Linked DNA regions of Homo sapiens. The protein of the gene in region 1 interacts with the protein of each later gene in a pairwise test. Each region holds a gene or a part of one and is shown in the gene's direction. Other genes may lie near its edges.

The links.
Region 2: the proteins of SLC33A2 (region 1) and KRTAP10-6 interact in binary tests that used the Homo sapiens proteins (3 or more experiments, as listed by UniProt).

Annotation. Positions count from the first base shown.
Region 1 is NC_000008.11:144,507,629-144,511,713, forward strand, and holds SLC33A2 (major facilitator superfamily domain-containing protein 3), read left to right. Parts: upstream 1-1,441; 5' UTR 1,442-1,705; coding exon 1,706-2,387; intron 2,388-2,731; coding exon 2,732-2,879; intron 2,880-2,969; coding exon 2,970-3,094; intron 3,095-3,165; coding exon 3,166-3,275; coding exon of another isoform or gene 3,276-3,362; coding exon 3,363-3,536; 3' UTR 3,537-3,585; downstream 3,586-4,085. Other genes in the region: RECQL4 (ATP-dependent DNA helicase Q4), read right to left, coding at 3,803-3,927, 4,053-4,085.
Region 2 is NC_000021.9:44,590,768-44,593,889, reverse strand, and holds KRTAP10-6 (keratin-associated protein 10-6), read left to right. Parts: upstream 1-1,384; 5' UTR 1,385-1,405; coding exon 1,406-2,503; 3' UTR 2,504-2,622; downstream 2,623-3,122. UniProt on the Homo sapiens protein: In the hair cortex, hair keratin intermediate filaments are embedded in an interfilamentous matrix, consisting of hair keratin-associated proteins (KRTAP), which are essential for the formation of a rigid and resistant hair shaft through their extensive disulfide bond cross-linking with abundant cysteine residues of hair keratins.

The DNA of each region.
Region 1 (4,085 bases):
ACCCAAGGAAGCAGGGGTGGGGCCACTGTCTGGGGGGCCAGAGACCACCTTTGGTGTCATTGTGTGGTGCAGTCCTTCGGCTGGGTGGAGTGGGAGGCAGAGGGAGAGGATAAGGGAGCGTCCCAGGGGAGGGCTGGGGCTGGAGGAGGCAGGGGCTGGGCTGAGCGGGAGTGGGCAGCGCTGTGTCCTGGCCTGGGGAGCATGGCTGAGCACCTACTACATGCAGACACTGCTGGGGGGTCACTCAATCTGCACAGATGCTCTTCTGAAGTAGGCATGATAGTCCCCATTTGATAGACGTGGAAACCTGCAACCCAAAAACCTGCTGAGCTGACAAGAAACCCCCTCAGAGGCCTCGGCAGCCAGAAAAATGCGTTGGGTCCAGTGCCCTCAAGTCCGCCAAGGACAGGGCTGGCTTTAGAGACTCACAAACTTGGGAGATAGGACTGGCCAAGGGCACCTGGTTTTTTTCGCTCTGGAGATGGTTCTTAACCACAGGCCACACACACTTCACAGCCTCATCTGGCCCTCGGGAGCCCCAGAGGGCACAGCTCTGGGCAGGAGACACAGCAGGTGGGCCCCTCCCTTGGCAGGGCGGGCTCGAATCAGGCAGGGTGCTCCTAGCCTTGTCACCGGACACCGAAGGGCGTCACGGGCAGTGGCTGGCGGTGTCCTTCTGAGCTAAGCTGGGTCCTGACCTTTCACACTTCCCTCCTAACTTCCATGGCTCTGTCACCGCCTTACGGAGGAGCTGAAGCCACAGACACAGCAAGGTTGGGGTCCGCACCGGAAGTATCCAGTGGTAGACGGCGGAACCCTTAAGAAACGGACGCCTTCATGCGGGCGGCTGGAGAAGCGGGGGCTGGGCACTGCAGCAACCACGCTTCGGCTGACACCAGGAAGGAAGCACGCCTGGAGCGGATCCGAAACTACTGAGAGGGGCCAGGGCTGGCCGTGGGCGCAGGCCGATCCTTACATTCGAGGCCGGCCCAGCTCTGTAGCTTCCCCCTCTGGGCCTCTCACCCGCGCAGGACCTCGGTGGGAGCGCGCACGTGGCGGGGCGGGGGGCCGCGGGCCCGAGCCCGGACTGGCCACCGGGGGCGCCCGCGAGCTGACGCTCTGGCCCGTTGCGGTCTCTGTGGCCCGCGCGACCTTCCGGCCCTGGAGCCGGTGGCCGCGGGGCTCCAGCGACGCCGTGTGGTCCGTGCTCCGCTCTGTGGCTCCAGGGGGCCGAGAAACTGCTGAGAGTCCGGCCCGGCCGGCAGTGCTGGGCGCGGGCCGAGGGCCCCGGGAGGCAGCGGCCCCGCCCTCTTTACCTGCGGCCTCGCAGAGCATGCTGGGAGCCGCGGGAGGCAGTGGCCCCGCTCCCCTCACCTGCGGTATCGCAGAGCATGGTGGGAGCCCCGGGAGGCAGTGGCCCCGCCCCCTTCCCTGCGGCCGCGCAGAGCATGCCGGGAGCCGCCGGCCGCCGGTGTCCGGACCGCTCGCCCCCGTTTGGACCCGACTTCGGTTCTTCTGGGGTGTTGATGCTCCTAAAGCCCGAGAGCACGTGTCCAGACCCTAGCCTGTACGACGCTGACTCTGCCCGGTCCCAGAACCAAAGCCATGCCGGGGTGTGGCCTCTGACCCCACGCGGAGGGGACCTCGCCTTGCGGGACCCCACCTGGAACCCGACCTCCCAGCCTCGCAGCCGGCCTGAGCCGCCATGCGCGGGAAGTTGCTGCCGCTGGCCGGCCTCTACCTGGTGCAGGGCCTGCCCTACGGGCTCCAGTCCGGCCTCCTGCCAGTGCTGCTGCGTGCCGGCGGCCTCTCGCTGACGCGCGTGGGGCTGGCCAAGGTTCTGTACGCTCCGTGGCTGCTCAAGCTGGCTTGGGCCCCGCTGGTGGACGCGCAGGGCTCGGCGAGGGCCTGGGTGACGCGCAGCACGGCGGGCCTGGGCCTGGTGTGTGGGCTGCTTGCCGGGCTGCCCCCTCCTGGAGCTGGCCAGGCCGGGCTGCCCGCCGCTGTGGCGGGGTTGCTGCTGTTGTTGAACCTGGGTGCCGCCATGCAGGATGTGGCCCTGGACGCGCTGGCTGTGCAGCTGCTGGAGCCGGCCGAACTGGGGCCGGGCAATACCGTGCAGGTGGTCGCGTACAAGCTGGGGGCCGCGCTAGCTGGGGGCGCGCTGCTGGCGCTGCTGCCCACCTTCTCGTGGCCGCAACTCTTTCTGCTCCTGGCTGCCACCTACTGGCTGGCCGCGGCCCTGGCCTGGGCTGCACCAGCCCTGCGGCGGCTCCCACAGCAGCCCCCTTCCGAGCAGCGTCCCCACACCGCGCACCTTCTGCGGGACGTGCTAGCCGTGCCGGGGACCGTGTGGACGGCAGGCTTTGTGCTCACCTACAAGCTGGGTGAGTGAGGCCTCGAGCCAGGCAACAGCAGTTGGGGCTTCCGGGACAGCTCCAGGTGTGTCCCCAGGGGCTTGCAACCCATTACAGGGCCACGCTCTTTCTGGGGTATGACCTGCAAGACTTGGCCCTGACATCCGGGGCTCTGCAGCTGGGCCTTGTGTCTTGTCCGCCCCCAGCTCTAGCCCCATCCCTGAGCGCTCTCTCGGGCTGCCCCACTTCTCCCCCAGTATCTGCAGCTCTGGAACACTGAGGAGAGCAGGGCAGGACTGAGGGCCCAGGTGGGGAGAAGGGAGGTGGGGGCAGATATGGAACCTCCCGTGCTCATGCCCCCCCCACCACCCAAGGTGAGCAGGGTGCCAGCAGCCTGTTTCCTCTTCTCCTGCTGGACCACGGCGTTTCTGCTCCCGAGTTGGGACTGTGGAATGGTGTGGGTGCTGTGGTCTGCTCCATCGCTGGCTCCTCCCTGGGTGGGACCTTGCTGGCCAAGCACTGGTGAGCCCTCCCCAGTGTACCCTGCCCACCCACTTGTACCTGAGCTGCCCCCAATCCACTATACTGACCCATTTCCCACCCCCATCCCAGGAAACTGCTGCCTCTGTTGAGGTCGGTGCTGCGCTTCCGCCTCGGGGGCCTAGCCTGTCAGACTGCCTTGGTCTTCCACCTGGACACCCTGGGGGCCAGCATGGACGCTGGCACAATCTTGAGAGGTGAGGGGCTGGCCTTGAGGAGGAAGAGAGGGGCCAGGAGCCTGGGGCACTGCTGACTTCTGCCCTCCCAGGGTCAGCCTTGCTGAGCCTATGTCTGCAGCACTTCTTGGGAGGCCTGGTCACCACAGTCACCTTCACTGGGATGATGCGCTGCAGCCAGCTGGCCCCCAGGGCCCTGCAGGTGAGTAGATGTAGCAGGGACACAAGAGAGACCACGGGGCTGGGGCTGTGTGGGCCTGACCTTGACCGTGACCCCCACCCCCCTCAGGCCACACACTACAGCCTTCTGGCCACGCTGGAGCTGCTGGGGAAGCTGCTGCTGGGCACTCTGGCCGGAGGCCTGGCTGATGGGTTGGGGCCACATCCCTGCTTCTTGCTCCTGCTCATCCTCTCTGCCTTTCCCGTTCTGTACCTGGACCTAGCACCCAGCACCTTTCTCTGAGCTGAGTGGCTGGAGTGGTCAATAAAGCCACATGTGCCTGTGGCCCAGATGTCTCTGTGCCTGGAATATGTGATGTGCTTGTCCCCAGCTTGTGGGGGTTGCCTCATTGGCCAAGAGGGCCCATAAAAACAAAGTGAGCATTTTTTATTCTGCATTTTGGAGCCTCCTCGTTCCCACACCCTGTGGCAGGTTTTGCCCAGGTCCTCAGTCACTGCCCTAGCCTCTGACAACCCCAGCTCTACCCGACATCCCCCAATGCAGTGCAGTCAGCGGGCCACCTGCAGGAGCTCTTCCGTGGCCAGGCCCACCAGGGCATGGAAGCTCAGGTGCAGGTATTTTCTCCAGAAGCGTCGGTCCTGCCCGTACACCTGGGCCGGGTAGCAGGGGCTTCCTACGGTGGAGCCAAGACACAGCCGTGAGCCCCAGCCCCAGCCTGCAGCGGGTGGAGCCTCCCAGGCCTCACCTGCCCCAGCCCCCAGCCCCAGCCTGCAGCGGGTGGGGCCTCCCAGGCCTCACCGATGCCGTGGAAGATGCGGGCCACAGCCCTGC
Region 2 (3,122 bases), on another chromosome or scaffold:
ACGTGGTCAGTTGGCATCTGCTGGTGGATGAGCTGCAGTCGTTTGAACCTTGCTCATCCTCATCGCGGGGCCAGTGCGTGTTTAGCCACTGTAGAAAAACAGCAGCTGTGGCGTGAGAGCAGAGTCCGTCCTCTCAGTGTAGGGCACGCGGCTTGTCCCTTGCCTGGCGCGGCCTGAGGTCCTGTTTGTAATTTGATATCTTATTGCCAGAGTCTGCTCTGTGGGTCTTACGGTCTCTATTTTAACTTTAGTGCTGGGTAGTGGTTGTGTCGAAACCCTAAAGGGAGGGGGTGTAACGAGGCGTGTCTGACCTCCCTTCCTGTCATGGCCAGGAACGCAGTTTTTCGGGGGTCCCCGTGGGCAAGATGGGATCCATTTAGTCAGTTGAGGGGCTTAGGATTTTATGTTTCGTTTACACTGGCAATGGGTTTGCAGTGAGATCAACTTCTCATGGACCCATTTTGTGTCTTCTGTGCGGGTTCTTTGGACAGATGTCCCTTAATTTTAAGGTGGTGACACTAAGAGGCCTGGCACAGGGCTTGGAAGACAGGGCTGGGAAATGGGCCCAGCAGGAGGCTGGGTGGGGGCTGACGGGCAGCCTCGGAGAAGCAGAGCACACAGAGGAGCCACCCCAGGCGGGGACGAGGGCTGCTGACCGCCCGCTGCTCAGCACGGTTACTCTGCAGGTTCAGAACCCAAAACCACAGCCCAGAAGGCTGTCATGCTGTCCAAGCAGGGAGGGGCCAAGCCCACCGTCCTTGCCCTGGAACACACAGGTCCTGCTGCCTCCAAAACACAAAGACGAGGTGGACACGAAACAGGGCCGGAGGTGAAGAGGCTGTGGGGATGAGAAGTCGTCCAGAGCTCAAAGCCAAGAGGTCTGGGCACAGTTACAGCTGCCCCCCACCCCCACCATGCCATGGCCCAGGGCAGGTCAATGAAGGCTCATGGGCCCCAGGTTGTCCCTCAGAAGATGGCCACAGTCCTGTGTCCGGTGATGGGGGAAGGACCACGCTGGATGAGGGGTTTTCACCACAAGGACACTTCCTGAGGCCGGCTTCCTGCAGAGGGACTCTGTGTCCCGGGGCTGCTGGGGCCAGGGGTGGACGATGCCGCGACCTGTGGCTCTCCCAGCTCCCCGAACCCAGCTGGGACCAGGCCCCGCCCAATTCCTGCCGCCAGGGATCCACATGGGATGGGACACAGCCCAGATGTGATGGGAGATTTATGAGCTGGCCCACATCACGGGCGAACAAACACCCCTAATCCCGGCAGACTCCAGCTCTCGGCAACACGGAAGGGGAAGCTGTGGGCCCGGGGACAACAAGGCCAGGTGGAATAAAAGCCCGAGAGCCTCAGCACCTCACAGGCTCACTCCCTCACCCTCCACCAGTTCAACCCCAGCATGGCCGCGTCCACCATGTCCGTCTGCTCCAGCGACCTGAGCTACGGCAGCCGCGTCTGCCTTCCTGGTTCCTGTGACTCTTGCTCCGACTCCTGGCAGGTGGACGACTGCCCAGAGAGCTGCTGTGAGCCCCCCTGCTGCGCCCCGGCCCCCTGCCTGAGCCTGGTCTGCACCCCAGTGAGCCGTGTGTCCAGCCCCTGCTGCCCAGTGACCTGTGAGCCCAGCCCCTGCCAATCAGGCTGCACCAGCTCCTGCACGCCCTCGTGCTGCCAGCAGTCTAGCTGCCAGCTGGCTTGCTGTGCCTCCTCCCCCTGCCAGCAGGCCTGCTGCGTGCCCGTCTGCTGCAAGACTGTCTGCTGCAAGCCTGTGTGCTGTGTGTCCGTCTGCTGTGGGGATTCTTCATGCTGCCAGCAGTCTAGCTGCCAGTCAGCTTGCTGCACCTCCTCCCCCTGCCAGCAGGCCTGCTGTGTGCCCGTCTGCTGCAAGCCTGTCTGCTCTGGGATTTCCTCTTCGTGCTGCCAGCAGTCTAGCTGTGTGAGCTGTGTGTCCAGCCCCTGCTGCCAGGCGGTCTGTGAGCCCAGCCCCTGCCAATCAGGCTGCACCAGCTCCTGCACACCCTCATGCTGCCAGCAGTCTAGCTGCCAGCCAACTTGCTGCACCTCCTCCCCCTGCCAGCAGGCCTGCTGCGTGCCCGTCTGCTGCGTGCCTGTGTGCTGTGTGCCCACCTGCTCTGAGGATTCCTCTTCATGCTGCCAGCAGTCTAGCTGCCAGCCAGCTTGCTGCACCTCCTCCCCCTGCCAGCACGCCTGCTGTGTGCCCGTCTGCTCTGGGGCTTCCACATCATGCTGCCAGCAGTCTAGCTGCCAGCCGGCTTGCTGCACCGCCTCCTGCTGCAGATCCTCCTCCTCCGTGTCCCTCCTCTGCCACCCTGTGTGCAAGTCCACCTGCTGCGTGCCCGTCCCCTCCTGTGGTGCCTCTGCCTCCTCCTGCCAGCCCAGCTGCTGCCGCACGGCCTCCTGTGTTTCCCTCCTCTGCCGCCCCATGTGCTCCCGCCCTGCCTGCTACAGCCTCTGCTCTGGCCAGAAGTCCAGCTGCTGACAGCCCTGGATGTGATCCGGAGTCCCTTCCCACCAGGGGCTGACCTCCCAGCTGCCCCAGCAAGCTCTGCCCTCTCTGGCTTTGACACCCTCAGAAGATGGGGCAGGCTCTTTGTCTTAGGGACCAGGATGCTCCCCCTGTCCTTCCCAGATGCTGGCTGCATGAGAGACCCCAGCTACTCCCCCAGACCCAAGTTCTGCAGAACTAACCCCCAGCAGGCCTGGTTCCACCCTGGGCAGCACCCCCTCTAGTTCTAATAAAGCCGCCTCTGTCTCACACCAACCTCTGTCCTGTCTGTGGACCCCCGGGGGGCACAGGGTGAGGTGGGAAGTGATGCCACCCCTGACTGCAGGGAGAGTCCTGACCCCCAGCAGGCCTGGCTCCACCCCTCTGTCTCTGTCGACTTTTCATCCTGTCTGTGGACCCCCGAGGGGCATGGGATGAGGCAGGAAGCAATGCCTTCTGGTGCTGGCCTCTGTGAACCCTGAAGGCCAGTCTCCCTCTTAGCCCCGTGGGCCCCCAACCCCAGCACATGGCCCCCCGGCCCATCTTAGGAAAGCTGCCTCTGGAACCAAGGCCAGGAGTTTCGGGACAAAGTGGACCCTGGCAGCACTCTGGG